Regions from separate parts of the Homo sapiens genome. Here regions 2, 3 and 4 are each reported to be linked to region 1. Evidence: microRNA targets listed by miRTarBase, many of them from high-throughput screens and not tested one by one. Region 1 holds a microRNA gene; each other region holds the end of a gene's coding sequence.
Evidence for each region. The annotated mature microRNA hsa-miR-130a-3p reads CAGUGCAAUGUUAAAAGGGCAU and lies in region 1 at 5,104-5,125, shown strand. An mRNA with a match to its seed (bases 2 to 7 or 8) in the 3' UTR can be bound and repressed. Matches are read on the target gene's strand: a 7mer-m8 pairs with bases 2 to 8, a 7mer-A1 pairs with bases 2 to 7 and ends in A, and an 8mer does both.

Region 1 (8,059 bases):
CTCCAAAAAAAAAAAAAAAAAAGGGTCATAGAATTTTATTCTTATTAGCAACACCACAAAGATTTTCTAGACCGTTTAATATAGTAGCCACTAGCCTCATGTGGCTGTATGAAAGTAATTAAAATGAAATAAAATTAAAAAGCCACTTCCTCAGTCACGGTAGCACATTTAAGGGCTCAACAGTCACACGTAGCTAGTGGCTACCATATTGTTTGATGACTGAGAGAAACATGCTCACCCATCTAAACCCAAAGAATGGACCTAGAGGCACGAGGAACAGCGAAAGTGAGACTTTTAATGACAGTCTTGCAAGATCAGGTGTGTGGTAGGCAGGCACACCCAGGACAGTTACAACAAGCAATTTATCCCCTAGTGCACAAATCCCTCCCCCCGTTCCTCATAGGCTGAGTACTATGGGGTCACAATCTTCCCCAGCGTCGCCTGTTGGTTGTTGGGTTGGGGCTTTAGGTGTTTTCTTTAGGGTTGCCCCATTGCATTTTGTTGCAGCCCATAATGCATTGCAGCCATCTTGGGGGGTCCTTCAACTGTTTGACTTATGACCCAGGTAGTTAAGGCAAGCTGATAAAGTTAGCTATCTTTCAAGCTCAACTAAACTGTTTGGTTCGGGTGAGGGCAGCTAAGGGGCCCCAACCAGCAGATGCCAGCTATTAAGGTAGGGGCTTAGTGGATCTTGTTCTCCTGTGGTTTGTGGACCCAAGCCTATCTGAGACATTTTATTTTGAAAAGGGACCACGATATATGTAATTTTCTACAATGATGCAGATATAGAACATTTCCATCTTCTCACAGAAACTTCTATCAGGACTGCGCTGTCCTAGACCAACGTTTTGCAAACGAGGAAACTGAAGCTAAAAAGGAAACATGACCTCGCCAAGCTTTTTTTTTGAGATAGAGTTTCGCTCTTTTCACCCAGACTGGAGTACAATGATTTGATCTCGGTTCACTGTAACTTCTGCCTCCTGGGTTCAAGCGATTCTCCTGCCTCAGTCTCCCAAGTAACTGGGATTACAGGCAAGCACCACCACGCCCAGATAATTTTGGTATTTTTAGTAGAGACGGGTTTTCACCATGTTGGCCAGGCTGGTCTTTAACTCCTGAACTCAGGTGATCCACCCGCCTCGGCCTCCCAGAATGCTAGGATTACAGGCATGAGCCACCGAGCCCGATCATAGCTCACTGCAACCTGGAACTCCTAGGCTTAAGCGATCCTCCCATCTCAGCCTCCCTAGTAGCTGGGACCATAGGCCACACCACGACGCCCAGCTAATTTTTTTATTTTTCGTAGAGATAGAGTCTCAGTGTGTTGCCCAGGGTGGTCTGGAACTCCTGGGCTCAAGCAATCCTCCCACCTCAGCCTCTCAAAGTGCTTGGATTATAGGCGTTAGCCACCGCGCCCAGCCTCGCCCTGCATCTTAATGGCAGATCTAGGCCTAAAACCCCGGACCTTACTCCAAGGCCTGACATATCGCCCTCGTCCTTGCTGCCGCCTTCCTCTCTGGGCTCCCCCACCTCAGAGCCCCTTGTGGGCGCACAGCACGTTGGCCCAGGCGGGGCAGGGCTGGTCTGAGGGGATGTTTTTGACGGAGCGGAGCTCCAGATGCTGCACATTCCTGATCGGGTCAGGCCTGCCCTGCGGCACTCGGGGAATTAGCTTCGGTGAAGAGCCCCAGATCTTCTTTCTAGAGCTGCCCTCTTCCTGGCCAGCCCAAGAAGCGCGGGCGTTCAGGAACGCTCTCCCACCGCCTTGGGTGAGGCTGAAAGGCTGAGTGGATCCCCTGTTGCAGAAGTACTTCTGGTCAAGGAGGGGTTGGAGACGGGCAGGAAATTGCACCCCTTGTATCTTCCAAGGTCTCCAAATCCAGCACGAGGGGCATCTGGGAACAGGGTTTCTGCCAGCCCCACCTTGGGGCCGCATTTGGCGGGAACTGGATCTGCCTTCACCTGCAGCCCTGTGCGGGGCGTGACGGAAAGAGCGGGGAGAGGGGCGTCCTGGTGCGGGGGTTGTTGAGGTGAGAAGCCAGGGGAGGGGGCTCCGGGAGCGCCCTGACCTCGCGGACTGTTGGGAGGCGGAGGGGATGGGGGTTGGGGGAGAAGAGGGGAGCCTGGCAGCCAATGGGAGGGAGGATCTCGTTTCAAAAGGGTTAACCCACAGCCAATGGGAGCCTGGGGGAGCGGATCCTGCTCACTCCATTCAAGAATCCCAAGTATTCAAGATGGACGGCAGGGAGTGTGGAAGGAGAAAGGGGGCGAGGGGGGAAGAGCGAGATCGGCAGAGGAGAGGGTCTCCGCGGCCCACCGGCCTCGCAACCTCGGTCCCGGCCGGCGGGTGGCGGGGCGGCCGCTGGGGATCCAAGCCCGGCCCGGGAGAGGGGCTGGCGGGGTGCGAGAGGGCGTGAGCGAGGGGGAGCGAGGCCAGGGAGGGGAGCCAAGAGGGAGGGAAGGGCAGAGAAAGAGCCCGGGAAGAAGGAGGTGGCAGGCAGAGGATCCTAACGAAGAGCAATGTGTAGGTATCGAGAGCTTCCCGAAGGGTAACGACACCGATTTTCGGTTTTATTCTCTCTTGGGGAAGGGAGGGGGACGGTCTGGGCTCTTTCTCTCGTCTTCCTTTTTCCCTCCTCATTCTCCACTCGTGGGCATCTTTTCTATTTTTTCCTTTGGAAACACTGTAACTGGGAAGCACCAGGCGTGTCTTTCTGAGGTGGCCTCACTGTCATTTTCCAGTGGGGGGCGTGGTGGGGTAGGGATGGGGGGCTCCGCTGGGCACGGCCGAGCTGGGCCATCTGTCTCCACCTGGGTTGTGTGCGAGGGCGTGGAGTGTTCCGAGGGGGACCGGGGGCCGAAGGGCTGGAGCAGGGCAGGGAGTTCTGCACCTCCAGAAGTTGTAGGGTGAGCCAGGGGCGGTGTGGGGGTGTGAGGCTGGTTTTCGAGCTGATAGTTGTGGGGTGTTGAGGGGTGCGGGGATGTGTGTGTGTGGGGGGCGTGCGCTCACACTCCAGTTCTTGTTGTTTGGGTGTGTAATGAGGGCTGAGTTGTGCAGCAAGTATGGCTGAGAGTTTGTGTGTGTGTGTGTGTGTGTGTGTGGTGTGTACGTGCGCCTGTGTGGTCCAGCCTCGAGGTGTGTGTGTTCGGGGGGAGCACAGTTGGGTGTTGAAGGAGAGCGCCCCTCACCCCCCACTTCCCAGCTGCCTCTCTCATCCCATTCACAGAACATGGCTTTCAGGACCCTCCTGGTCTCCTCCTCCCGTCGCCATGGCTGCGAGGAGGGGGTGGGAGGAGACAGTTGGGGCCAGCCCCCTGCCCCTGCTGCTCCAGCTAACCCCCCACCTGCCCTTTCTCTCCCTTTCACAGGCTGGGCCCCATCCCCTGCTGCTCTGGGGGCAGGGGCCGGAAGATGGTGGCCAATGAGGAGGGGGAGAGGAGAGAACTTGAGCCGGGGCCTCCCCTCCCCCATTTCCTCCTCGGTCTCTACACTCGCTTCTGGAAGGAGCTGGGGGCTGGCTCCTGGGCCCAAGGTGGGGGAGGGGTCCTGCTGGCTGGTGAGTCGCTGGGCCTGCTCCTCAGGAATGAGTTGGGTGTGTGAGAGCTGAGGGGCTCTTGGCCCTTTCTCCCTGCACTCCCTAAGGAGAGACCTGGAAACTTCTTGGGGAAGAATCTTCCCCTGGCCTCCCTGAAGCTTGCTGTGCAGCCTTATCTTTGCCCCTCTGCCCCCTGTTGGTGTGATCCAGTTCCCAGCTGGGCCTGGTTTGCCCAACCCCAGAGCAGAGAGGTCACTGACCCTCGAGGGGTCTTGGTTTCCGCCCATTAAAACTGTAGGGCAGGGCCCCATGTTTGCAGATTACGGGAACAAACTCTGCCGGGGAGAGCGGGAGGGAACGTCTCCTGCTTCCTGAGGGGGTGGGACGAGGCTAGAGGGAAGCCCAGAGGAAGAGCTCCCAACTGGAATTCTGTCCTCTATTCCTTACGGTGGCTGTGGATTAGGGAAGAAGGCATCTCCCCTTCGTTGATCGGGGCACTGGAGGAATCACCCTCCAGCCTCTGTTTCTCTGGGCTGCCCAAAGTTCACTGGGTCAGAACTGGAGCTGGGCTCCGGGGCTGTGGCCCTAGCTGGAATGTGCCACAATAGAGCCTGCCTGGGTCTGAGCCTCCAGATATCCAGGTGTCCTTCCAGGGCAGCTTTCTGGCTTTGGGTGTTAATCTTCCGGGGACTGTTTGTCCTGTATTTAAGCCCCCTTAGGGTTGGATAGGATGGGGAAGTGCTAGGATGAGCTTGAAGACTCCCCAACCAAGGGTCCCTGGATAAGACAGGAAATAACTCAGATGTGAATCCCACTGCCAGTGAAAGCCTATCCCTAACTCTCAGTAACTGTGAGCGAATCACCCTCACCATTTTAATGCTGAATCTGCAAAGTGCTTTCAGGACCTCCAAAAGGAGATGCAGGGGTGGGGCTTCACCAGCAGCTTTCACCTCCCCGCCTGGAAGCTTCTCTCTACTGCGTGGGGAGCTGTGACTACAGGCTCCCACCTCTCTGGTCCTGGAAGGTCATCTGAGAGTGTTGCCTTGAGGCCTAGAGCTCTGCTTTATCTAAATTTAAAAGGAGATGGAAACTTAGAGAAGAGTAGAGGGTTCTGTAGTCTTGGGCAGCAAGCTCCTCTCTAGAAGGTAAGCTAGCGGAAATGCAAATCCAGATGAACACAGCCTCATACGAGTGACCTCCAGACTTTGGGGATTGCTAATAGCCGTTTTCTTTGAGGACTGAGCATCAAGCCCGAAGTATCCCTGCAGCTGCTTTAGTGGGTCCTGTCCTCCCATGCCAAAACCTCCAAGAAAAAGGTGGTCTCTGTGCTGGGGGTCAGGGGGTTGGTGAAGAAGGCGGCAAAAGGAAGAGTGGTGAAAAAATAGAATGAACACTAAGAATGGAATAAAAGGGAAAAAAGCTGTATTGAAGCAAAGAAGGGGCAGAGGGAGCCCGTGAGCTGAGTGGGCCAGGGACTGGGAGAAGGAGTGAGGAGGCAGGGCCGGCATGCCTCTGCTGCTGGCCAGAGCTCTTTTCACATTGTGCTACTGTCTGCACCTGTCACTAGCAGTGCAATGTTAAAAGGGCATTGGCCGTGTAGTGCTACCCAGCGCTGGCTGCCTCCTCAGCATTGCAATTCCTCTCCCATCTGGGCACCAGTCAGCTACCCTGGTGGGAATCTGGGTAGCCTCACTTGTTAGTTATACTAATAGCTCTCATTTATGGAACTACTTCTGTATGCAGTGCTTGTGATAGACACTGCCTCCGTTACTGTGAAACCTAATAACTTCTGGGAGGTAACAGCCCCATTTTATGGATGAAAAACTGAGGGTCAGAAAGGTTTAAACAGTTTGGCTAAGATTGTGTAGCTCTTAGGTTGCAAAGCCTAGATACAACCCTGTGTTAAGTCTTGACAGCTCACTCATCTTTTTGTAGACCCATCTGGAGAGATCTGAATAGGTTCTTCAAACTGGGAGATTTCCTGAGCTGAGGGGTGGAAGGTTTTGATGCCATCTGCTGGTTGTATGAGGATATCTTCCAAAGCCTCAAACCTTTAAGGACCAGAAGTGGTGGCAACTCCTTAGGCTAAGAAGGATAAGCATTCCCAGACTCAGCCCGGAATGGAGAGTGAGTGGAAAAAGATTAGGAGAATCACTATTAGGTACAGAGTAGGCCTCCTTGAGAAAAAAAGGAATGCACCAGAAAGGAAAGGGGGTTAACTCGAGAGGATTGCTCCCCAAAGAAAAGGACCTGTGTGCTGCTGGCATCCCATACCTACAGCTCCTTCCCTGGCTCATGAGGCATGGAAAGACCTCACTCCTTCCCTGAATCCACTTACCTTTCTCAGCACCACTCCCTCTTGGTCACGGGGTGTTTGATGGTAATGCTGCTTGAGGGCACACCTGTCTGGGCATCCAAGATTTGGACAGCGTTGCCCATGACTTAATCTTAAAGATTAATAGGATCCCTTGAATCAACCCACAGAATGATTCTCCCAGGACCAATTACAAGGAAATTGAGGCCGGGTGCGGTGGCTCACGCCTGTAATCCCAACACTTTGGGAGGCCGAGGCGGGCGGATCACCTGAGGTCAGGGGTTCAAGACCAGCCTGGCCAACATGGTGAAACCTCGTCTCTACTAAAAATACAAAAATTAGCCAGGCGTGGTAATGCACGCCTGTAGTCTCAGCTACTTGGGTGGCTGAGGCAGGAGACTCTTGAATGAATCTTGGAGGCAGAAGTTGAAGTGAGCCGAGATTGCGCCACTGCACTCCAGCCTGGGCAACAGAGCGAGACTCCATCTCAAAAAAAAAAAAAAAGAAAGAAAAATTTGAGAGCAATGACTCAGCCATTTACTTCTCTGTCTCCCACAGTGCCTAGTAGGCTTAATTAAAACTTGTTAAAATAAATTGAATGAGAGGAATATTTGGGGAGCTTCTTTAAGAAGGCAGCTAGTATTCCTGGTCTTTTGGCTAAGATCAAGTGAAGAAGGCAGCTAGTTTGTGCCTGGTTTTCAACAGCAGAGTTTGGGACTTGAGAAATCTTCCCTAAACTTTGGTGCAAGAAATGGGTCCAAGAGGAATAGGGTTTTGAGGTCCTCTGCTGGACCCTGAGAGGGATCTTGGCATCATGAGGCATGTAGAAACTGAAAGATGGGTCAGACTCCCCTGAGGCCTTAGTTGAGGGATGTTGGACATCTCTCCATGGCTTGCCTTTTTCCCTTGCCCTTTTACTTCTGTGCCTTCCAGTTCTAGTCCTCCTTTCTCCTGCCCAGACAGCCTCTCCATTCTGATCACAACAACAGTATTTGAGATAGTACAGTTAGCTTTATTTCCCTTTTTTTTTTTTTTTTAAGACAGAATCTCACTGTCGCCCAGGCTGGAGTGCAGTGGCGCGATCTCGGCCCACTGCAACCTCTGCCTACCAGGTTCAAGTGATTCTCCTGCCTCAACCTCCTGAGTAGCTGGGATTACAGGCGTGCACCACCATGCCTGGCTAATTTTTGTTGTCCAAGCTGGTCTGAAACTCTTGGCCTCAAGTGATCGCCCACCTCAGCCTCCCAAAGTGCTGGGATTACGGGTGTGAGCCACCGCACCCTACCATATGTTCCTTACTTTCTCCAGTCTATTAAAACTTCTATTTGAGCCTCTTGTCTGGGCACAAATAGCCATTTGATACTGCCACTCCACTCTAAAAAACAATAATTTTCCCATATTTCCCTAATACCATTGGGATTAAATCTAGATTCCCTAAATAGTTTATGGCTCCTGCTTCTCTTTCCTTTCATGTCCTCTCACCCACTTTTTAAGGAGACAAAGTTTTGCTCCAGCCCAGGCTGGAGTGCAGTGGCGTGATCATGGCTCACTGCAACCTCAGCCTCCTGGGCTCAAGTGATCCTCCTGCTCAGCCTCCTGAGTAGTCGAGACTACAGGTGCAGGTATGGCTTTTTTTTTTTTGAGACAAGATCTTGCTATATTGCCCAGGCTAACCTCAAAGTTTGGCCTCAAGCAAGCCTCCAGCCTTGGCTTCCTAAAGTGCTGGAATTAAGGCGTGAGCCACTGCTTTCAGCCCACAAGCAACTTTTATTTCCTTCAATTAACTAAACTTAAGTTACTTGACACATACTCTGTCTGAAATACTTCCATCACTTTTGCCTTTGCCTACCTAACTTCTTATCTTTCAAATGCCATCGTAGTCATCGCTTTTGTGAAGCCTTCCTTGACTCCTTACATCTAAGCTGAGTTCCTTTCCTATGAGCTCCCAAGCTTCCTCCACGTCCCTGCTTAGATCCCTTATTATCATCTTCTACTGGGATTTCCTGGTTATTGCATCTCCTACTGGACAGAAAGCTCCAGGAAGTCAGGTCACAGCTGCCTTATCTTCACCATGTGCTTAACATCTAGTGCTTAACACAATGCCTGGCAAGTAATAGATGCTTTATAAATATTTGGAATATTAATGAATGAATCTGGAAAGAATATTATAGCTTACCAAAAAATGATCTTTATGATGTATATGGTCTCC
Region 2 (8,059 bases), not on the chromosome of region 1:
ACTTACAAGGGATGTGAAGGACCTCTTCAAAGAGAACTACAAACCACTGCTCAATGAAATAAAAGAGGACGCAAACAAATGGAAGAACATTCCATGCTCATGGATAGGAAGAATCAATATCGTGAAAATGGCCATACTGCCCAAGGTAATTTATAGATCAATGCCATCCCCATCAAGCTACCAATGACTTTCTTCACAAAATTGGAAAAAACTACTTTAAAGTTCATATAGAACCAAAAAAGAGCCCACATTGCCAAGACAATCCTAAGCCAAAAGAACAAAGCTGGAGGCATCACGTTACCTGACTTCAAACTATACTACAAGGCTACAGTAACCAAAACAGCATGATACTGGGACCAAAACAGAGATATAGACCAATGGAACAGAACAGAGCCCTCAGAAATAATACCACACATCTACAACCATCTGATCTTTGACAAACCTGACAAAAACAAGAACTGGGGAAAGGATTCCCTATTTAATAAATGGTGCTGGGAAAACTGGCTAGCCATATGTAGAAAGCTGAAACTGGATCCCTTCCTTACACCTTATACAAAAATTAATTCAAGATGGATTAAAGACTTAAATGTTAGACCTAAAACCATAAAAACCCTAGAAGAAAACCTAGGCAATACCATTCAGGACACAGACATGGACTTCATGTCTAAAACACCAAAAACAATGGCAACAAAAGCCAGAATTGACAAATGGGATCTAATTAAACTAAACAGCTTCTGCACAGCAAAAGAAACTACCATCAAAGTGAGCAGGCAACCTACAGAATGGGAGAAAATTTTTGCAATCTACTCATCTGACAAAGGGCTAATATCCAGAATCTACAAAGAACTCAAACAAATTTACAAGAAAAAAAAACAACCCCATCAACAAGTGGGCGAAAGATATGAACAGACACTTCTCAAAAGAAGACATTTATGCAGCCAACAAACACATGAAAAAATGCTCATCATCACTGGCCATCAGAGAAATGCAAATCAAAACCACAATGAGATACCATCTCACACCAGTTAGAATGGTGATCATTAAAAAGTCAGGAAACAACAGGTGCTGGAGAGGATGTGGAGAAATAGGAACATTTTTACACTGTTGGTAGGACTGTAACCTAGTTCAACCATTGTGGAAGACAGTGTGGTGATTCCTCAGGGATCTAGAACTAGAAATACCATTTGACCCAGCCATCCCATTACTGGGTATATACCCAAAGGATTATAAATCATGCTGCTATAGAGACACATGCACACGTATGTTCATTGCAGCACTATTCAAAATAGCAAAGACTTGGAACCAACCCAAATGTCCATGAATGATAGATTGAATTAAGAAAATGTGGCACATATACACCATGGAATACTATGCAGCCATAAAAAATGATGAGTTCCTGTCCTTTGTAGTGACATGGATGAAGCTGGAAACCATCATTCTCAGCAAACTGTCCCAAGGACAAAAAACCAAACACCGCATGTTCTCACTCATAGGTGGGAATTGAACAATGAGAACACTTGGACACAGGAAGGGGAATATCACATACCAAGGCCTGTCATGGGGTAGGGGGAGCAGGCTTACCAGTGAATTTACTCTGTTTGCTAACTTCTCTTCTGTATTTTTCCAGAAAGAAAAAAACTGAAGGCACCTATGACTTACCTTACTGGGACCGGGCAGGTAACTCACGTGGTCTTTGCATCTCATTTCTATCAGAGGGATGTCGCTCCCCTACAGGGGGCAGTAGTGAAAAAAGAGTCATTCTCTGGCCCAGGTGAACTCCCCGACACTGTTAGAACAATGGCATTACTCTTCAGTTCTCACCATTTTTACCCTTCTGCAAAGTCTCTTGTAATTCCTAAGTAATGAAATGAAAAGTACAAATTTCTTAAAACAAGCTCTGTTCTTTTTCTTCTGGAAAACTTGTGTAGTTTGTCCTGTGTATCTGTTTCTCATGAGGAGACCGGCTTTCTGTGGCCCACGTGAACACTGAGTAAGAAACAAAAGACTGTGGTCTCCAGGACACAGTGTGTGTTTGTCCTCTGCCATGGTTATTCACCAAGTGGAGTCCAGCAGTTTAGGAATCGGGAGGTCTCCCATGATGAGTTGTCATCTTCTGAATTGCTGCAAGTGACACCAAAGGGGCCCCCCTACCAGTTTCTCACTTCCCAGTCTCACTACTGGATCAGCTCTTAGGAGCCAGGAGAGTTCACTGCTGTGGCTAGGATAGAAAAGGGCAGCTAGTGCCCCAGGGTAGATCTTGGAAAATATTTTTTGGGAAAAATGTAATTAAGGCCACCCCTAAAATAGATACTGTATCTGGCTGTACTATACTAACAGTGATTTGCCTGCATGTGTTTGATAGAGATTTCTACCATGTACTGCTTGGTGCTGGATAGTCTATCACAGCAAAAAAAAAAAAAAAAGTTGGATTATAAAGGCAAGTTTGTAGAGATATTTGTTATAGAAATGGCTTAAATGCAACAGGATTTTTCTCTTGATACTACTGTTTGAGATACAGGTTTTTATTTAATGGTCTCTTTGGCTTGCCGTCACAATGAAGGTTGGTGGAAAGGAATGAAGCAGTTTCTTCCTGCAAAAGCAGTGGACCATGAGGAAACCCCAGTTCGCTATAGCAGCAGCGAAGTTAATCACCTGAGTCCAAGAGAAGTCACCACAGTGCTGCAGGCTGACTCTGCAGGTAACTATGTTGCAGCCTTCTGGTACCAGGCAGAGGGAGAAACTGCTTAGGCTTGCTATAAAGTGCTTTGGGATTTACAGTTCTTTGATCCCTTTCATGTTTAAGAAATGAATTGTTTCCTAAAGGTAGAACCACTTTTTTAAAAGGTGACTCTTCAGAGAGTCATTTCTGTATCTTGGATATTCTGTCTGTAAAGTTGGGACATTGATTTCTAAAGACTCTGGGCATTATGTATGTTAACTGAGGCTTGTGGGGAGACCCGAGATGTTGAGAGGAGAGCGGGAAAGACAGAAGAAGCCTTACAGTGTTTATCCTCTTAGCCTAGTACATACTTATTTTAAACATTTCCTAATATTTGAAAAAAATCTCTGAAATTATTTTTCAAGATTAATATTTATTCCAGTAACTGAATGTTTCTTTTCCAATGAAATATTCTGAAAATAATTCAGAAAGGAAATATTCAGTAAAGAAATATGTTGTCTGTAAATCTAAAGAACATATGTGAAAATTCTATATGCAAAATTACATGAATGAGACTTTCTGGTATATTATTACTATGAGAAGTACTAGACAGTATGTTTAATTTTAATTTTCAAAGTTCTTACAGATTAAGTATTGATGGCAACAAAAGTATCCTAAAGAATGTTTGCTTTTAGTATAATCTGCAGCTGCCACCCTAAATTATGCAATCTCTTTACTAGTAAAATGACTTTTCTGTTGTTTTGTGATATCCACAGAGTATGCTCAGCCACTGGTAGGAGGAATTGTTGGTACACTTCATCAAAGATCTACCTTTAAACCAGAAGAAGGAAAAGAAGCAGGCTATGCAGACCTAGATCCTTACAACTCACCAGGGCAGGAAGTTTATCATGCCTATGCTGAACCACTCCCAATTACGGGGCCTGAGTATGCAACCCCAATCATCATGGACATGTCAGGGCACCCCACAACTTCAGTTGGTCAGCCCTCCACATCCACTTTCAAGGCTACGGGGAACCAACCTCCCCCACTAGTGGGAACTTACAATACACTTCTCTCCAGGACTGACAGCTGCTCCTCAGCCCAGGCCCAGTATGATACCCCGAAAGCTGGGAAGCCAGGTCTACCTGCCCCAGACGAATTGGTGTACCAGGTGCCACAGAGCACACAAGAAGTATCAGGAGCAGGAAGGGATGGGGAATGTGATGTTTTTAAAGAAATCCTTTGAAGATGATGCTGCTTTTTACAAAGCATCGTTTTAAAGCACATGGCCTTTTTTTTTTAATTATTAGTGGTAGTAATATATAGAATGTATTACATAACTGTCACTGAAGTGGTTGGGGAAAATGTGGTGACTGAGGTACAGGAAACTACTAATCTTGCCATCTTGCTTTAAGGTGTTATGGTGGCACAGTTACTGCTCGCCTGTTAAATTTCAAATGTCCTGTTTGATACTACTGTAGAACACTATTTTTAATACAGAAAAAGCTCCCTATAATGCACTTCAGAGAAATTAAAAATCACAGAGTATTTATTACCAATGCTGCAGGTACATTAATGAACTCGAGATGGCTCTGTAAGCCTGACTGGCAATAACGCACGGTACTGTTCTTGAAATACCTAATGGCTTGAAATTCTAGTCTGTTTGTGAAAGATGGGTACTATCATGATTTCCTCTTCTATTCCTATATTCTTTTCTGGATTTTTTTTAATAATTAGTGATATAAGCATTGTTTTTATTGCAGCCATATCCACTTATCCATCTTAAGATCTGTAGCTGGGATTTTCTGACTTGTAATGAGCAGGGGGATTGCTTTTTCACTTTGTGACACTCTTTAGAGCTTTAATGCTTCACAGTATATGGCCTGGTCTCATCCTTGCGTGTTCCACTTGAGGCCCTTTGGTGTCTTGCCCCATTCTTGTGTTTATAAAATGTTTGAGTATTTCTGATGAGTGATGCTTGCCTTAGTCTCATGAATTCAGATCCCTTCATGTCCTTTAAGTATGCTCCTCAATGTGTAAACAGGAACAACTTTATGATTTGAAAGCTTTAAAGGAGATTCTTCTCCCACCCCCAACTTTATTTGCAATGGGATTTTTCCTAGGAGAGTTATGAAAAGTTGAAGGCTTCTAAGGGAATACTGTAAACATGACCCACTTATATTTATCACAGTGAAAGGCAAAATTATTCACTCAGAAGTAATATAAATTACCTCTTTAAAAAGTAACCAGAATTTGTCCTTTTTGGTTTTATACATTCACAAACATATACATTTTTCTTGAGTCTCAAGGTATTTTATATTTTTAGTCAGAAAAAATAATTTTTCATTTCAGTTTTCCATAAACTGTTACACAAAATATAAACCTAACGTGTATTTTTCAGGACTGCGTGATCGTGCACTTTGTGTGGTAAGAGGTTTGAGTAGTCCTATATGTCACCTAGGGAACAGACATTATAGCTTACTAGCAAATGAATATTCATGCCTTGTTTTTGATACCTCCTGGCAGCTTCCATGTCACCACTTGTTCATACCTGCCCAGAGCTAGTTTTAGACATGGCAAAATAGAAATCATCTGTAATTTATTAGCTAACAATGTAAAACCATCTTTTAAAGCCTTCAGACTGTCAAGACGACATGAGCAGCTCACCATATGATAAAAATACATAAATTTGACATTCCCTCTTCCATAAACCTTTGTTTGTAGATTTAATGTTGAACAGTACTTTTCCATAAAGTTCTAGTCACTTCTGTTGGCCTGAGCCACCAGATTATGATGTTGCCAGAATTCACTCAATTTGAATAAAGATGAACAGTATTTGTTTTCTTGTTTCCATGAATTATATCAGTATTCTAAAACATCGCTTCAGAAAGAGAACTGTTTATTTCTGCAGGCTTCCTGTCCTTTTGTGGTATGGTTTTTTGGCCTTATTTTCACTGGCTTTTCCTTCTCCAAACTTTGAGGCGTGATTTCATTCATTGAAGAATCAATACATATTTTGTTTCAAAATGTTTGAAACAAAAGACATAGATGGTAGACTTTTATTAAAACATATATGGATGTGGAAAGCACATATATTAATGCAGTCATCCCTTTTCAGGTGGGAAGAGAGCAAACCAGTTGATTTTTTAATTCATCCTTAGTACACAGAGAATATACTTTTCCTCAAGTAATATACCTGTTTGAAGCTTTAAGAGAGATGTTTTTGGTAACTATTTCATTTTCCCAAAGAAGTTTGCTATTCTTGTGTTAATTGTGTATACCTGATTGTTTTTTCCTGGAGGTTTTTGTTGTTGTTGTTTAGTTTTGGGTTTTTTTTTTTTTAAGAGGGGCAAGTGTTTTCTGAAATGATGCATATTTTAAGACTCGATTCATATTGCCACTGTGCTATCCTTGAACTACCAATAATTTTTATAAAATATCTAGTTTTTACTACTTTTATATAAACTTTACTTTCCAGATGAAGAGCTGAGCCTGATTCAAATGGTTTTTCTGCTTTATACTTCTTTTTAGTTCATTGGTTTTTATAGTAGAGGTTTTCTATTTTTTTTTTTTTTTTTTTTACTACATTTATATGTCTGATACATATACGGCTTTGGAGACAATCAAGTAACAACTGAAAATGTGAAAGTAACCATATCTGACAAAATTCCCTTGAATTTTTATCCTTTGCTTGCAACATTTAAGACTCAAAGTCACTGGTATATTGGATTAAGTTTTTTCCTGTTAATGCAATTATAGAAATACATCGGAGACACAACAAATGTGGCCATTACAGGTTTCATAAAATTACACTGACTTGGCTGTTACTTGATCTTAGGAAACAGCACAGTTTAAGATATTGTGAATTCTGACTTATACTTTATTAAATGCTGTAAATCTAAATAGATCCTGTTGGATGTGATGGGTCTAGTCCAGTTTATTTAAGTTCATGTTTCACTGTTTGCACTTTGCATTGAACAATGGGTTTATTCGCTGATGTAAACGGTTCGAGTGAAGAATTAATGCAGTAAGTATGACAACACATACACACTTGCCTCTCCCCATCTCCAGAAGAGGGGAGCAGAGTCCGAGCTTATCTAAATATGAATGTGGCCACAAAGCTGTGGAAGGTGACAAAGCTTAAACACCTTTGCCCTGGCTCTGCATTGTCACCTAGAGAGCAAGAGGTCTATAGAAACATCATGTCACATGAAACGATTCTCTGCTTTTTGGTTCTGAACTTGAAGTCCCTAAACTGCAAAATCTAAGAGTTGGGTGGTTATTAAAATGCTTTTAAAGTCAACTGTGGCACCAATTCTAATGTAATCCAACTTGTGACTGTTTTTTTTTGTTTTGTTTTGTTTTTGTGTGTGTGTGTGTGGCACTGGGAAAAGTGGAAACAAACATGTATTGAAATACATATTGGAAATAAAAATGGTTTGAGCGTCAGTGATATTCTCCCAGAATGTACTTATCTTACCTCGGCATGTACTGTAGTCACTCAGTATTTGTATATGTTGCTAGAATTTAGATTGTAAAATAGTGAAATTTTAATGTGTTCATTTGTTTTTAATGTATATATGTCTTGCTCAGATTATTTGGTTTAAATAAAACAACCTTGAGGTTTGTAGCTTTTCCTTATACTATAAAATGCCAGATTCTTCTATTTTAACCTCACTAATTTATGGCCAATATTGTGCTTCCAGCAACATTTGAAAATGACACTGTTAGTTTACTTTGACTTTTTCTATGACCAGCGCCATCCTTTTTTTAAAAAAATAATTTCAACTTTTATTTTAGATTCTAAGGGTACATGTGCAGAGTGCAGGTTGTTACATGGGTATATTGTGTGATACTGAGGTTTGTGGTATGAATGATCCCATCATCCAGGTTGTGAGCATAGTACCCAATACATAGTCTTTCAGCCCTTGCCCTCCCCGCTCCCCTCGCTCCCCCCGCCGCAGTCCTCAGTGTCTATCGTTCCCATCTTTATGTCCTTGTGTACCCACAGCACCATTCTTTTTGAAGCCTGATTTACTTTATATCAATTGAACTTCAGCAGCCACACTGCAGCCTATGGCTGTGTGGTATGAGGGGAAAATCACACTGATTGATTACATGTGATTCCAGTTCTGGTACCTTCCTTTTGCACCTCAAAAAGTTATAAGAGGAATCAAAACTGTGGGACTCTGCAAACATATGCTGGTATTCATGTCTAATCTGGGTTAGATCAACTACTACTGTTCTCCCCTTTATTCTGCTTTATAAGTACCGCATTCTGTTTCTGAGCCAAATCTAATGTATTTCACCCTTTATACACCCTCTTTAGAGAGGCAGGTTGGTTGTCAGTAATCAAGCCATGGTTTTCCAGTGTTTCCCAATTGTATTTATTGGTCAAAA
Region 3 (8,059 bases), not on the chromosome of region 1:
TACAGTTGGCAGGAGACTATTTATACTAGTGCTTTTTCAAGCAAGTTTATCTAAATTTTGAAAGCTTTGGTTATCAGTTGCTTCTTTAAACAATATTTTACTACTCCCCCATTTGTTTTGGTTGCCAACTGGGTAAAAAGCTATCAGATATCTTATTGAGCAGTATATAATTTGCCTCTGAGTTCATATATTTCATCCAAAGGCAAGCAGATTATGTTTCGGCCTGGATAGCATTATATAAAGAGAATGGTCAATTCCACTTGGCATTTTTTGTAATATTGAAAATAGCTCACAAGTAACTCTGCCTCAATCTTAGTGGCCCACCTCTCACAGTATTACTATATCACACTCTATCACACACACTATTAATTTTGAGACCTGCCAAGAGACTAAAGAACCCAGGTTGAAAATCTGGGGGGAGAGGGAGCGAGGAGGAATGTTACATTAAATTAACTGCCAATACTTTGCCTATGATAATGAAGAACTTTCCCAGAGTTGCCCAGAGACTGGGCAAGAAGAAGGAAGAAATGCAAAGACCTGTTCATTACATCTTTGAAATACCTGTAATCATGACTTATTACGTTAACTGTTTATCTATTTGCATTTTTATCATTTATCCCAGGAAAGTGCAGATAACATACTCTCCATTGTTAAACAAAGAACAGGATCTTTTGGGGATCGTCCTGCAAGACCTACTCTTTTAGAACAAGTGTTAAATCAAAAAAGACTGGTAAATATCTGTTTGTAAATCAGTTATAAATGTGTTAACAAACGTTTGTTATAAATGGAACAATTGAGATTTTTGAGATTTTTAGCTCATGACATCACACTATACATCAAAATAAATTCCTAATAAGTCAAAATTTTAAAAAAAGAATCGGAACTTTACCTCAAAAATGTAATGAGATTTTTTTTAGCTTATATAGACAAAATCACAGAGAAAAGATTATAAACTTGACTACATAAAAATGAATGCTATAGTCAAAAATGGTGGCAAATTGCACAATGACCTAGAGCAAAAATATGTACAACAAATATAAAAGACTATGGTTAACGTGTCTGGTATTTTATCACATAAAATATTCCTGGTTGGGCATTGTGGTTCATGCCTGTAATCCTAGCACTTTGGGAGGCCAGGTGGGAGGATCACTTGAGGCTGGGAATTTGAGACCATTCTGGGCAACGTAGCGAGACCCCATCTACAAAAAAATTTAAAAATTAGCCGAGTGTGATGGTATGTAGCTGTAGTCCTGGCTACTCAAGAGGCTGAAACAGGAGGATTGCTTGAGTCCAGGAATTCGAGGCTGCAATGAGCTATGATCATACCACTGTACTCCAGCCTAGGCAACAGAGCACCCTATAAATCATTAAACATGATCAGTTTCCTTACATATATATAAAATATGTTTGCCTCTTTGACAGCTTCAGTCTTAACTGCAAAGAAAGTTTATTACAAAAATTCCTGTAATTTGATGAGGAAAACCTTTGGCTTCAATACATTGCAAAAGATAGAAACAGAAAAAAAAGGCAGAATACCATTAAATGATATGGAAAGGTATTCAATATCAGTAAAAATAAACAAAAAGTGAAAATTATTTAAACGATTACGCACAATGATGCAGTGATGTGGAGACTTTCATGAAATGGACATTCTCAAGTAGTTAATGGCATTATATATTGGTATGGCACTTTCAGAAAGCAGTTGGGCAATATGTACCAGGAGTCATCCCTTTCAACTCAGACATCACATTTAATATGAAGACATTTACAGAATGTAAATCCTAAATATGGATAGAGTTAAACATAAAGGTATTGCCAGGAATATATTTCTCATAAATAGTAAAAAAGGTAGTTGAAACAGCCTAAATGTCCAACAGTGTCATAACAGCTAAGATGATTTTTAAATAAAACTGTTTAATAAATAGAAAATGTACTAAGATATAATACATATAATCTGAAAGTCAGTATTTAATGATAGTATGTTCACTTTATTCAGTTTATCTTTTTGCAGCTTATTGGGGCCAAAGATTTTTTTCTCTATAAATTTATGTAAGTATTTTATTATAAAAACCTATTACAGGAGACTGTGGCAGGATGATTGCTTGAGCCGAGGAGTTCAAGACTGCAGTGAGCTATGCTCACGCCACTGCACTCCAGCGTGGGGAACAGAGTGAGACCCTGTCTCTAATAATAATATGTTAATCATAGTCTGTTATATTTGTTATATTATTACAACTATATTTTAAAGTGATGAGTGTACAAAAAGGTATTGGATGTTTTAGAGCAGTTATATTTTTTCCTGAAATTTTGGTATATACCGATATATATGTACATATATATATATACACACCTATACACACAATTTTTAATTTCTTTATGAAGACTTAGTTGCCTAATGAGAAACTTGACTTCTAGCACTAGTTTGTATGTATGTACAAACTGGCATTTAGCTGCTATTTTCACATGTGGCCCCCTTTCATCTCCATTTTTTTTCTTGCTATAATCCTGGGTCAGTGCTACTTTTAGCTCTTTGTTCTTACATATTTCAAGAGAGTATATTTGCTGGCATATTAGAGAAGGTGTTTCCTTTTTACACAAAGTCACCAATAACAGACTTCACCCGTTATTTTTAGGTTTTAGTATTTTGATGTGTGACATCACATTATTTTTAGTTTGCAGCTTAGTTGCAGTGCATCCGATGTAAAAGTGCTTTTGATTCAGGCATATTCTTGTGAACATATTGTATCATATGTAGGGACACATCAGAGTAATTAGCATGAAAACAGTCTAATGACATAGATTAATGCTATTAATAATTTTTTTCTTTTCTTTCTAAGTCGTTACTAAGAAGTCCAGAAGTAGTGCAATTTTTACAGAAACAGCAACAGCTATTAAATCAGCAAGTTTTGGAGCAAAGACAACAGCAGTTTCCAGGAACATCAATGTGAGGGAACTTACCAAGAACATCTACATGGTTTTTTATCTTATTGTAATAGATGAGCATATTTTTTTACCAGACATAAATGGGGTAATAATCTATGCCTGTAGAACATAAACATTTTCCTGTAAATGTATGTGTGCATTTGGGGATAAGTAAGTATTGCACTTTGTGCATCTAATCTTTCAGATTACTGTGAGTTTGAAGAAGTCAGCTTATCTTTCCAAATAACATTTAATTATAATGTTTTTTAAAAAATATATTCCTCTTCAGTCATTGTTACTGAAGGTAATGAAGCAGTTACTTTCTGTGGAAGTCATAAAGTTAATAGATATTAATCTTGACTCATCTAGCTCAGTGGTTCTCATCAAGGGTCAATTTGATTGTCATAGTGACCTTGAAAACCACTGGCTTTTAGTGAGTGGCCAGGAATGCTAAATGTTCTGCAGTGTCAGGGGTAGTCCCACATACTAAAGATTGTCTCACCCGCAGTGCCAATAACACTCCTAAGAAATGTTGATGGCTATTTTGTGGTGCTAACATGTAGTTGGGGCACCTATAATTGGGTTCTCTTAATAACCTTTCTTTGCAGTTAAGACTGAAGCTGTCAAAGAGGTAAGCACATTTTATATAGACGTAAGGAAAGTGATTATTGTTTAATATCTGTGAATTTAGGATGTGCATCTCTTTTCAGAGGTGTGTTAGTAAAACCTGACGGATTAACTAAGCACACTGGGATGTGTCTCCTACAGTTGGCTTCTCTCTTTGATGTTACCTGTTAGTGCTGATCTCTTAAAGCAGACATTTCTTGTTTGTTGAATTTGTGAACAGTATAGATCTCAGCCCACCAATGCCAAGACAAAATTATTTTTCTTATACTTATTTTTTATTAAACAAAATGAAAAAGATCCTTTTCAAAAAGGTGATCCTGAAAATAAAACTAACACTCCAGTATTTTGTCATTGTTTTTCGCAATTGAGCTATCTGAAAACTGTTATTCCTAAGTAATGTTCAAAAATGATAAGTAATCTGGATACCTTTTTCTTATACTTTCTCCTAGGAAAACTTTAAAACTTTAAAAAGGCAAACCTACCAATAGGAATAACAAATTAAATGTCAAGAGAGTATATCCAATATTAGGATATAAATGTATGTGTCTCAAGTTTAACTCTACAAAAATTTGTTACTTGTTTTTTAAACTCTATATATAAAGTTCGACTTAATCATGGCTGTTCTAAGAAGTACTTATGGAGAGCAAGAACGTTTTTGTTCATTTCTTAATGTGTGTGTTTTTACTTGCATATCTGTTCAAAACACTTTTAACAAAATTAATTCATTAAAGTCCAGTTGTTGACCTTTGAGTTAGCTGATTTCTTTATTCTGTTCTTTAGTTTATTCTTACTAGATGCAGAGGAATTCATCTACTGTCTGTTATTAACTGTTAGTTTATTCTCATACTTACGATGTTGAGAGTTTTTTTGAAGCTTAAGTTACCCTTTATGGTGGAAAACATTAGCTTATGCTTCTTTAGATGGAATAATGGGAAAGGAGGGAAATGGGAAATGGATGGAAATGGGAAAGGAGGGAAAATAATAGCCCAGTGAGAGCTGAATGAAAAGGGACTGAATTTAAATATTTGTAAGAACTTTGTGATGATGAGTAATTGTCAGACGTGGGATAGATAACTGAGAGGCTCAGAATCTTTACCAAGGATATTTTTTAGGATAAGGTAGCTGCCTGTTCATGAATTTGGATAAGAATAGTAGGACAATATTCAACACAATTTAATTTTTGTCTGCCACATTAGACATTTTTTTACCTTATAAAATGATCAATAAAGCAATAAGGTTTATTTTGGGTAGATGTATTGCAGTGTGTCTCCAGTTTTTTATCCTTGTGTTTACTCATGCCATTTGCCGTGTGACTTTGCTGCTCATCCTACCCATTGAGCTTGAGTTTATTTACCTACCCCTTAAATCTAGAGGACTGGCCTTGTGACTTGTTTTTGCCAGTAAAATGCAGAGGACATAACAAGATGCCATCTCTGAATAGACTTCTGAGAGTTTTGAACATTTCCACTTGTTTTTTTAGAGTCCTACCCTGCTGCCATGGTAAGAAGCCCAGCCTAGCTTCCTGGATAATGAGACACATAGTCCAGTCACCTGTATTGTACCAGCTAATAGCTCTCAACCAGCCACACATGTGAATGAGGCTATGCTAGATAAGCTGTCCAGCCAGCCTGCCAGCTGACCGCAGATACACTTGATAACCAACTGAGATCAGCCAAGCCTGGCCCAAATTTGCAGAGCCACCAAATTGACCTGTAGATTTGTGAGCAATTATAAATTATGATTGTAAGCCACAGAGTTTTGGGGTAGTGTGTTAGATGCAGCATTTTTGTGACAGTAGGTAGCTGATACACCTAGCTGCTATTTATTGTTGCAAAACAAATCACCTGAAAATTTGATGGCTTGAAGCCATTATTATTTCTCACAGTTCTGTATATGATTACTGTGATTTAAAATAGCTGTGCAAATGCTTTCAAGCTAGGTGTGGCAGACCATATTTTTCAAAGATGTCTGCACAGTATCTCTCACCCCACATGCTCTTATGCATTGTTGTCCATTAAGATATAAATTTTCTTTTCTATCCTTTTGAATCTGGGCAGGCTTATGACTGCTCTAACAAAATATGGCACAAGTGATTCTGTGCCAGTTCATTTGAGGAGATATGATAAATATACATGTCTATTTGTAGTAATAAGAACATAAAGGAATTCACAGCTTCCATTTTCCAGCAAAGCTGGAAAATCAGTCATATGATAATGTGGGGTGCAGGAAGTAGTAAGGGGCTTTAGAAAGAAAATATTAGGAAGATACATTAAAGTCAGTGAAAGAGACGGCTGGTAGCGGCTGGGACGATTGCTCACCAAAGTTGTCCCAGCACTTTGAGAGGCCTAGACAGGCAGATCGCTTGAGGTCAGGAGTTTGAGACCAGCCTGGTTAACGTGGTGAAACCCTGTCTCTACTGAAAATACAAAAATTAGCCAGGCATGGTGGCGCATGCCTGTAATCTCAGCTACTTGGGTGGCTGAGGCAGGAGAATTGCTTGAACCCAGGAGGCAGAGGCTGCAGTGAGCTGCGATTGCACTACTGTACTCCAGTCTGGACAACAGAGTGAGACACTGCCTCAAAAAAATAAAAAAGAGAGATGCCTAGTAGCTAGTAGCCTACTAGTAGTCCTCTGAGAGCATTTTTCCCCTTCTTTCATAGTAGAATTTTGGGTTGGGAACATAGCCATATATAACCATATAGCTGATTCTCACATACCATGCCAAGGAATCCAGATACAAATGACGTGTGTACGATTCTATTTACATAAAGTAGAAAAGCAGGTGAAACTATGCTGTCAGAACAGAGAAGCAGGATAAAACACCCGTGGGAGCAGGATACAGTCTAGAGGCTTGAGGAGGTTTCTGGTGTTCCAGAGATGCTTGCTTTTCCAGTTGCTGGTTAGGCATGTGTGTTCTATTAGTGAAAGTTCAACACGCTATGCATTTATGATTTTTGTACTTTTCAGTATATATTTTACACTTCAATTTTTTTAATAGTTGATTTTATTTTTTTAAGACTTTCTCACCTACCCCTGCAGTTGAGTGTGGCCATATGAGTAAATTCTGGCCAGTGGGATGTAAGCACAGGTGATAAGTGCAACTTCCAGATGGCAGCCCGGGGCAAGCAGCCCATTTCCTCTCTTCCTCCATCCTGCTGCCTGGAATGTGGACAAAGCAATGGAGCATCTATGGGCCAAATGAGGGTCATTCACTGGGGAAGGCGGAGTAACAAAATAGAAGGAATCTGTGTCCCTGGATGTCCTCAAGGAACTGAGCCACCACACTAGCATGGGATGCCCTTTCAACTACTATGGGAAAAAGAAATGGAGTGTATTGTTTCTACCAGTTATGATGATGGTATAACCACGGTTGTTGTTATTGTGACAGCCAGCCAAATCTGTTTTCTAAATAATACTATAGGGAAAAGGATTGACAAGTGGCATTAAGGACTTGGCCTACTGGAAACCAGGAATTTGTAATGGCAATCTGCAGTTATGTGATGCTGTTTCACTGGGCTCAGCCATCTGTATTAGTAGGAAACATAGATGATAGGCTTGATGTAGGGTTCATTTGGTGCAATAAGTAAGGGATGAGGACGTTAGGATGCTTCTGAAAGGACTTTTAGGAATAGGTTTGAGCTGAGCAGAGAAGAAATGAGGCTAATGGAGACTGGAGGTTCCTATGACATTGCAGTGTAAGTGTCGGAAGAATGAGAGCACAAGGTATTTCAGCTAGGAATCTATGGACTCAGGAAGTGAGCAGTACTCATTACACTCAATTAGTGACAGCCCCAATTTTTATTCTATAATATTTATCAATACACTTGGCCCTTAGAAATGCTCAGCAGCTAGACCATTAGGCTTCTGCTTGAAGAGTTGATTTGGAGCAATTAAATAAGCCTTTAGGATTTAATGGCAGGAAAGTCACTCAGGGAGGACCTACCTCAAGGAGAAGCTCAAAGCATTTTGCTTCAGCTCATCAAACAGAGCTCTGGAGCATTGCGAAAACGATTTTAAAAATGGCAAGACAAAAAAAGTAGAAAACTATGGAATAATGTTTTGCTTCAGGTGTAGCTAATCCAAACTGCCACAAAGGAAAATTGGGGCACTGGTGGTGTGGGATGAGAGGGTTCAGTAGTCAGGAGACAATCTTTTGTTGAAATGATCTTTTATATTGCTTGAATTCTTACCATGCATATATGACCTTTTCAGAAATGTTGTTCTTACTACAAACTAAAACAAAATCTTGTTAGAAATTGATGTCTAGGCATGGTGGCTCATGCCTGTAATCCCAGCATTTTGGGAAGCTGAGGAGGTGGATCACCTGAGGTCAGGAATTTGAGACCAGCCTGGCCAACATGGTGAAACCCCTTCTCTACTAATAATACAAAAAAAAAAAAAAAAAAGTAGCCGAGCATGGTGGCACGTGCCTGTAATCCCAGCTACTCAGGAGGCTGAGGCACAAGAATCACTTGAACCCAGGAGGCGGAGGTTGCAGTGAGCTGAGAT
Region 4 (8,059 bases), not on the chromosome of region 1:
GCATGGTGGCACGCACCTTTAGTCTCAGCTACTCGGGAGGTTGAGTCAGGAGAGTTGCTTGAACCCAGGAGGCGGAGGTTGCAGTTAGCCAAGATCACACCACTGTACTCCAGCCTGGTGACAGAGCCAGGCTCTGTCTCAAAAAAAAAAAATGTTGGAAGTAGCTCATGAGCCTCCATTGCCACTTTTGGAGCCTTGAATCCAAGGTTGGGACTACGGCTGTGGAATATTATGTGTCCTAGGCACTTGCTAAGTGCGTTCTGCAGGAAAACAGCTTCACCGTTGCCCAAGAACTCATCAGGTTCTCAGGCTCCAGCCTGATCTACTAAATCAGCATCTGCAGTTTAACAAGATCCCCAGGTGATTGATAGTCACCTGAATTTTGGAGAAGCACTGTTGTGGTATCACAGCTAGAAACTCATGATGGCGTAAGAGGAATAGGAGACAGTGAGTTGAAACAGGAACTTTGGGCCAAGATTTGTAATAGCAAATCTTGTGAATACCATTTCCTGTCCTTCACAGTACCTGCAATGACAGTACATTTTTTCTGGCTTTTGCCACCTTGCCACCTTCTGCCTTGGATCTTTAGAACACCACAGGATCCAATGCTAGTCTTCTAGGATGGGGGTCCATAAATAAAATCCTTGGTCTTTCCTAAGAGATGGATACTGGTGTCAGGCAGATGTAGATTAAAATGGCATTCTTATTACAGATTAAAGCCATTTGGAGAATGTGCTGAGGGCCAAATGGGCTTGTGAATATTATTTTGAAATAAACTTAATACCCCAAAACTTCAAGCTTCCCCAACAAGGAGCCCTACTAAACTCATCCCATGGCTGAGAGTAGGAAGGGCATTCATGTAGGCTGGCAGGACCCAAAGAGAGAAGAGAGGTAGGGTCTAAGCCACACACGCTCAGTTTCTTCTTTGAAACTCACCAGGGAGGAGTGAGTAGGTGGCAAGGAGGAGGCCAGGAGAATTTCTCTGGCGGGGACCCTCCTCATGAAGACACGGGGAGTGGGAACAAGGGTTCTTCCCACGATCTACTGCAAAGGACTTTTATACCAGGCTCAGCTGATTTCTAGATGTCACCTAGTTTCTGAGGCAAGTGTGTCTTACGTAAAGGAGGCAGGCCACATCCTGACCTTCAGAGTCCTGAGGCAGAGAATTGTGGAGAGCTGTTTCCTCTTGCAGAAAGCTGTATCTCTATGCGGCTCATGATGTGACCTTCATACCGCTCTTAATGACCCTGGGGATTTTTGACCACAAATGGCCACCGTTTGCTGTTGACCTGACCATGGAACTTTACCAGCACCTGGAATCTAAGGAGTGGTTTGTGCAGCTCTATTACCACGGGAAGGTAATACCCCTGAGGTGGGGTTGGGTGGTGGTGAGGCACCCTCCTGCAAAACCCACCTACCTGAGTTAGCACCAAGTCTCCCTCCTCAGGCCCAGTGGAGTCTCTCTTGGCACAGTCAGCTCTCTGAATCCTATAGGGCAACTCCTGGCTATGGCCCAGGGGTCAGGCAGAACTTGACAGATGGTGGCAGGATGGGGCTTGAGCCTTATCCCAGTTCTGTTACAGACTCCTAGGAACAGGGTCCCCCTCCTCTTCTCCTGAGCGTCCCTGTCAGGATGTCGCCTCCTGGCTGTGAGACCTGTTTTGGAGATTGTTGGTGGTATCTTTGGGAGGTGATGTGTGCTGCTGTTAGCACCCGTGGTGTTGGCTGCTTCATCAGGGCTGGGGTCCAGGGCAGAGGCCAGAGCACGCCCCAGGGATGAGCCTGTTGGTTCTCCCAGCTCGGGGATGTAACTCGACTCTTTCTTCCCAGTCAATTCAACACTTTTTGAGTGACTTTTACAAGCAGAGCATAGTGCTTTTATTCTGGAAGCTCACCGGGTAGTGGGGCCTTCCTGTCTGTAATATGTATGCACATGTATACCACATGGATCAGAGCCTCTCAGATCTCTGGGCTTAGCTGGAAATAGCAGAAGGACAGGTTCCTCGGCGGACCTGCTGAGTTATGTTTCTTCTGCAGGAGCAGGTGCCGAGAGGTTGCCCTGATGGGCTCTGCCCGCTGGACATGTTCTTGAATGCCATGTCAGTTTATACCTTAAGCCCAGAAAAATACCACGCACTCTGCTCTCAAACTCAGGTGATGGAAGTTGGAAATGAAGAGTAACTGATTTATAAAAGCAGGATGTGTTGATTTTAAAATAAAGTGCCTTTATACAATGCCTCCTGCTTTGTGTGTTTGGGAAGAGGAGAGAGCAAGGGGTAATGTACTTTAATATAATGTAAGGATATTTCCTTTCTGTGGGTTTACTAAGATTTCTTCCTGAACGGAAAAGGGGTATAATATTGAGACCAAAAGGATATTTCTCTATTTTGTGAGTTGGTTTCTAAGGTTAGAAGCATCTTTGTGTGACACGGGCTGGGGACATCATGACCCTGTAGAATTGTGTCGGTTTTGGACTTTAGTTCTTTTCTCCTATATTAATTTCACATGTATTGAGCTACCTACTAAGTAGTGATCATTATAAAGGTGAAAACACTCTGCCCTCAAGTTGTTGCAGTCCAGTGGGAGAGGCAGCCGAGTAAATCAGTGATACAGTGCTGTATGTTTTATGCTGTAATAGGTATTTGAGGGGCTATTTGGGTATAGAGAAGAAACTTCCTGCTCACATGGCAGGGGATGTGGGGAACAGTCAAGGAAGGCTTCTGAAAAAGTCCTGGCCTGATCTGAGTAGAGAAAGGTGGGTAGGAGTTAACCAGGAAAGCAAGGATGAAAGCGTGTTGCGTTTAGATAAAGGATAGGCTTCAAGGTCAGGGAACGTTGCTGGGTGGTGAGATGGAACCCTGATGTGGAGGCTCAGCAGGAAGAAGCAGGAAGGACACTGGGCCCCTGGTGGTTTTAGTTCCAGAAACAAATGTGGGCCCCAGGGCTCTGCAATGGTAAGGCTGGAACTACTCAACATAAGAGCTCCACCTTTAACTGTGCCCCCTAAGAGTACCTGATGATCCCCCTATCTCCTTGTCAATGTTGCTGTTCTTCTCCAGAATCTATTTCAACCCTTCTCTGATTTCAAACCACCAGTCCCTTTACCTCTCAGAGAAAACAGCAACCACAAAAGCCTCTCCACTTCCTACTATCTTAATATTGACAACTTCCAGATCAGGGAGCTGAGATATCTCAAGCTCAGGTTTCTCTTCTGAGCTTCAGACACTTTTATCCACTTGGATTTCACTGGCACAAAACTTTCCATGTTAGAATCAAACCCCCCTCCTCCCAGACCTGCTTCTCCCACACACTTCCCTATCTGAATGAAAGACACCTCCACTCTCCACCCAGTTGCCAAATCAGAAATCTGTCTTTGTTTTCTTTGTCTCACATTTTCCTATGTCTAATCAGTTAAGTTTTATCAATACTACCTGTTTATTTCTTTAATCTATTCACATATCTTTATCCTCAATCTTCAGCATCCCCTTCCCATCCTCAGTCTGCTGGTTACTGTATTTCCTATTTTACTAAGAATCTAAAAGAGATCAGAAGAAAACTTCCACATCCCCCAACACCCAACCACCAAATCTGCTAACCCAGTTGCATTGGTGCTTTTATAGCCTTCCTTCCTCCCTCTTACTAAGAATGAACCAACACTATTCCTATCAAAGCCCAACCCTCTAGCTTTACATTGACTCCTAGTGTCTTTTTTCTGGATTGTCAATTTTTTTCCTGACCAATTATTCTATTAGCAATACAAATATGCTGTAAAATCTCTTAAACTTTTTTCTCTGCATCTTTGAACTGCTGTTCTCTTTTCCTTCTCCCCTTCATAGCAGAACTCCTCAAAAGAGTTGCTACCTCTAATTCTTCCCTTCCAGTTCTCTCATGAACCAGCTACAATTAAGTATTCACCCCCACCACTCCATGGAAACTGCTCTTGTCAAAATCATCAATAGCCTTTGTGTGGTGAATCCAATAGCCAGTTTTCATTCTTCTTACTAAGCTTCTCATCAGTATTCCTAGACTATTTCCTTCACTGGCTTCGACAAATGCTTTCTTGGTTTTCCTCCAATTTCTCGACTTTGTTCCTGCTGAATCTACCTTTTTCTAATCCGTAAGTGTTGGGGTGTCCCAGGGCTTACTCCTTGGACCTTTTTTCCACCTTTTCCCCTACACTCACCCACTAGGTGATCTCAAGAATTTCCAGTTTGAGGCCGGGCGCGGTGGCTCACGCCTGTAATCCCAGCACTTTGGGAGGCCAAGGCAGGCAGATCACCTGAGGCCAGGAGTTCGAGACCAGCCTGGCCAACATGGCAAAACCCTGTCTCCACTAAACCTGCCTCTACTAAAAATACAAAAATTATTATATTTTTATAAAATTATTATAATTTTATAAAATTATTATATTTATGGAGTACAATGTGATGTAATCCCAGCTACTCGGAAGGCTGTATGTGTCTATTTATGGAGTACAATGTGCCTGTAATCCCAGCTACTTGGGAGGCTGAGGCAGGAGAATCACTTCAACCTAGGAGGCAGAGGTTGTGCTGAGCCAAGATCGTGCCATTGCACTCCAGCCTGGGCAACAAGAGAGAAATAACATCTCAAAAAAAAAAAAAGAATTTCCAGTTTTAAATATTTACACAATGTCTCCTAAATTTATACCTTCAACCTAGACCTTTCCCTGTGAATCCCAGTCTCATTTCCAACAGTCTAATCAATGTCTCTATTTGGATGTTTAAGATATACAATAGGTATCAAACTTCCCATTGTCCACAATAAACTCTCAATTTCCGTGCCTTTTCAAACTTACTCCTTCCACAGGCTTTCCCATCTAGGTAAATGACACCACCATTCACCCTGTTGCTTTGGCCAAGAACTTTAGAACTGCCCTTGACTCCCCTCTTTTTCTCATATCCTACCTCTACTACATCAGTAACTCCTGTTGTATCTCTCTTCAAACTATATCCAGAATTGACCATGTCCCAATACTTCCATTGCTACTGTCTTAGTCCCAGTGTCATCTTTTACCTGGATTATTGTAAAGGCCTCGTAACTAGTCTTCCTGTTTCTGCCCTTCCCTTCTCTGCCCATCTATTCTCAACACAGTGTTGCTTTTAAAACAAAGTAAGATCGTGCCACTCTTCTGCTCTAAATTCCCCATTGGTTTCTCATCTCAAACTAAGGGCCAGTCATAATGCCCTCACGGTCCTATGACATCTCACTGCACCCCAGCCATACTCGCCATCTTACCATTCTTCTTCTTTTTTGTAATAAAAACTTTTTACTTTCTTTTTAGTTGACAGATAATAATTGCGTATATTTATGGAGTACAATGTGATGTTTTGATATATGTATGCATGAGGGAATGATTAAATCAAGCTAATTAACATATTCATCACTTCATCTACTCATCACTTTCTTGTGGTGAAAATGTTTCAGATATACTCTTTAGTAGTTTTCAGGTGTACAGTCGCTGTGGTTTGAGTGCTTTTGTCTTCTCTAAATTTGATGTTGACACTTAGTGCCCAGTACAATGTTACTGGGAGGTGGAGCCTAATGGGGATGTTTAATGGATTAATGCCATTATAAAAAGGGCTTGCAGGAATGGGTTCCTTCTCTTTTGCTTTTCTGCCATATGATGACAAAGTGTTCCTCCTCTCTGGAGGATGCAGCAACAGGCACCATCTTTGAAGCAGAGAGACCAGGCCCTAACCTTCTGGTGCCTTGATCTTGGACTTCTCAGCTTCCAGAACTGTGAGATAATAAATTTCTGTTCATTACAAATTACCCCATCTGTGGTATTCTGTTATAGCAACACAAAATGGACTAAGACAACAGTATACTGTTATGAACTATGGTCACCATGCTGTGCACTAGATCACAAAAACTTATTTCTACTGTTTAACTGAAACTTTGTACATTTTGACTAACATCTCCCTTTTTCCCATCATCCCATCCCATTCTTACTATCGTTGAAGATGGAGTATGCCAAGTAGTCCTGAGCCATGTCCTCACCTCGGGGTGAGCACCTGTTGTTCCTGTGCCTGGAATGCTCTCCTAGACATTTGCGTGGCTAGCTCCCTCTTTTCATTCAGATCTCAGCTCATTGTCATCTCAGAGAGGCCCTCCTTGCCCTCCTTCTACCTCCTGCCTTAGGTATACTCTGCCACCTTCTGTCATGGGCTGAATTGTGTCCCCCCTAAATCCATATGTTGACATCTTAACCCCTAGTACAGTAAGTCCTCACTTGATGCTATCAATAGGCTCTTGGAAATGTCGGCTTTCAGTGAAAGGACATATAGCAGGTCCTTGAATAACATTGTGTTTTGTTCAACATCGTTGCCTTGTAACACTGATGAGCAAAACAGTTGGTTCTCTAATATGTTGTTTTACTTAAAGCTACAGTTTCCAAGAACCTATCAATGATGTTGAGGACTGAATGTACCTCAGGTGTAATGTATTTGGAGATAGGGCCTTTTAAGAGGTAAAGTAAATGAGGTCATATGGGTAGGCTGTAATCCAATATGACTGGAATCCTTATAAGAAGAGGAAATGAGGACACAGACACAGAGGGAAGATGACTATCTGCAAGTCAAGGAGAGAGGCCTCAGAAGAAACCAATGCTGCTGACACCACGATCTTGGACTTCTAGCCTCTAGCACTGTGAGGAAATAAATTTCTGTTGTTTAAGCCACCTAGTCTGTGATACTTTGCTACGGCAGGCCCTAGCAAATGAATACACTTGTCTTGTCTTTCCCCCGCCCTGTGATATTTATCAGTGCCGGATATTACATATTTGTGTATCTATATGCTTATTTCCCTGACTAAAATGGAAGCTCCATGAAGGCAGATTTCCTCTTGTTCACTGATGTGTCCCCAGCACCTGGAATAGTGCCTAGTGCATGCCAGTGCTCAGACACTTGGACATTTGAATGACATATCCCCTCTGTCACTTCTCTCCGGGGCCCAAGGCCACCCTCCTAGGTTACCACAGTGGCTTCCTAATGGGCCATACCCTCACTTGCTTTCCATCACCCCCTGAGACCTGGCCCCTGCATACCTCTCCAGCTTCACCCCTCACATATCTCCCTAGCCAGACCTATAGTATGTTTAAAAAAAAAGGAAATCGCACTCCTCTGGCCTCTTTACCTTGGCACACATTTTTCCATCACCTGACCCCTGACCCACACTCCCTTTTCCTGTGTAATCCAATTATCTCTAGGCCTCCCGTGTTTCTGTTTGTCCTTCAATAGAAGGTTGTTTGTCTTGTCTTTTATTGTATTTCTAGAACCAAGTGCAGAGACTGTACAAAGTGGACCTCAGCAAAGATTTACCGAATGAATAAATGAGTTCAGAACGCTGACTTAACTCTTCTGTTGGCACCCAGGTGGCTTCTATGCACTCTCCTTCCACTCACCACCAGGGGGAAGCATGGAGTAAAGGAAAACACCAAGGCTTTCGCTGGGTTCAAATTCTGACAGCGTATTTATTTCCTTGCAACGCTTGGACGGGTGTTTCTGAGCCTGTTTTTCCTCTCATGTAAAAATGGGCATAATGATACGTACTAATTAGGGTTGTTGTGAGAATCAATTAAGGAAACGTATAAGTGCCTTCAAGTATTCTTATTTTCCCTTTTCTCTTTCATCTCACTTCCCACGAGATTCTTAACTGTGGTAGGTTTCGCAAGCCAAGGGAGCCTTTGGGGATGCTCCTCTGCAGGCAGCGCCCCGCCTCCGCCTGCCCTTCCCGGGGCACTGTGCCTGTGTGTGCAGGAGATTTGTACAGAACCCTGGCTCCCTCACTCACCAGTTGTGTGACTGTGGGCATGTCACTTAATTTCTCTGAGCTTCCATTTTCCCAACTATAAAGCGGGGAAGTTAATGTTTATCTACCTGATGATTTGTCCTGAGGATGGAAAATAGGGTGTGAAAAGCTCTTCATAAATTCCTAACCTGTCCCTGCCTTGACTCCTTTCTCTAAGGGGCCTCAGAGTGCTGTTGAGGTTTAAAGAATTCCCACAGGAGGCTCTCACCCGTGTATGGCAAAGTGAAAG

Region 2: the mRNA of DCBLD2 is a reported target of hsa-miR-130a-3p. Seed matches in the 3' UTR shown: 7mer-m8 at 6,621-6,627.
Region 3: the mRNA of RFXAP is a reported target of hsa-miR-130a-3p. Seed matches in the 3' UTR shown: 7mer-m8 at 3,101-3,107.
Region 4: the mRNA of ACP6 is a reported target of hsa-miR-130a-3p. Seed matches in the 3' UTR shown: 7mer-m8 at 4,570-4,576 and 7mer-A1 at 5,876-5,882.

The regions. Positions count from the first base shown.
Region 1 is chr11:57,636,149-57,644,207 of GRCh38, forward strand. MIR130A (microRNA 130a) reads left to right here and starts at 5,050; the gene lies at 5,050-5,138. MIR130AHG (MIR130A host gene) reads left to right here and starts at 2,228. Exons shown (of 2, transcript NR_186232.1): 1 at 2,228-2,524. RefSeq lists silencers at 2,152-2,341, 2,362-2,421 and enhancers at 3,268-3,847, 7,122-7,621.
Region 2 is chr3:98,795,218-98,803,276 of GRCh38, reverse strand. It overlaps DCBLD2 (discoidin, CUB and LCCL domain containing 2), which reads left to right. Exons shown (of 16, transcript NM_080927.4): 14 at 1,628-1,677; 15 at 2,561-2,698; 16 at 3,436-7,336. The coding sequence ends at 3,905. ST3GAL6 (ST3 beta-galactoside alpha-2,3-sialyltransferase 6) reads right to left here. Exons shown (of 10, transcript NM_001323368.2): 10 at 7,425-8,059. Among named protein-coding and RNA genes, the nearest start is that of ST3GAL6, 36 kb to the right of the region's middle.
Region 3 is chr13:36,824,806-36,832,864 of GRCh38, forward strand. RFXAP (regulatory factor X associated protein) reads left to right here. Exons shown (of 3, transcript NM_000538.4): 2 at 623-730; 3 at 2,838-4,299. The coding sequence ends at 2,948. Among named protein-coding and RNA genes, the nearest start is that of RFXAP, 9.6 kb to the left of the region's middle.
Region 4 is chr1:147,641,545-147,649,603 of GRCh38, reverse strand. ACP6 (acid phosphatase 6, lysophosphatidic) reads left to right here. Exons shown (of 10, transcript NM_016361.5): 9 at 1,193-1,358; 10 at 2,038-7,374. The coding sequence ends at 2,181. Among named protein-coding and RNA genes, the nearest start is that of ACP6, 25 kb to the left of the region's middle. RefSeq lists an enhancer at 7,749-8,059.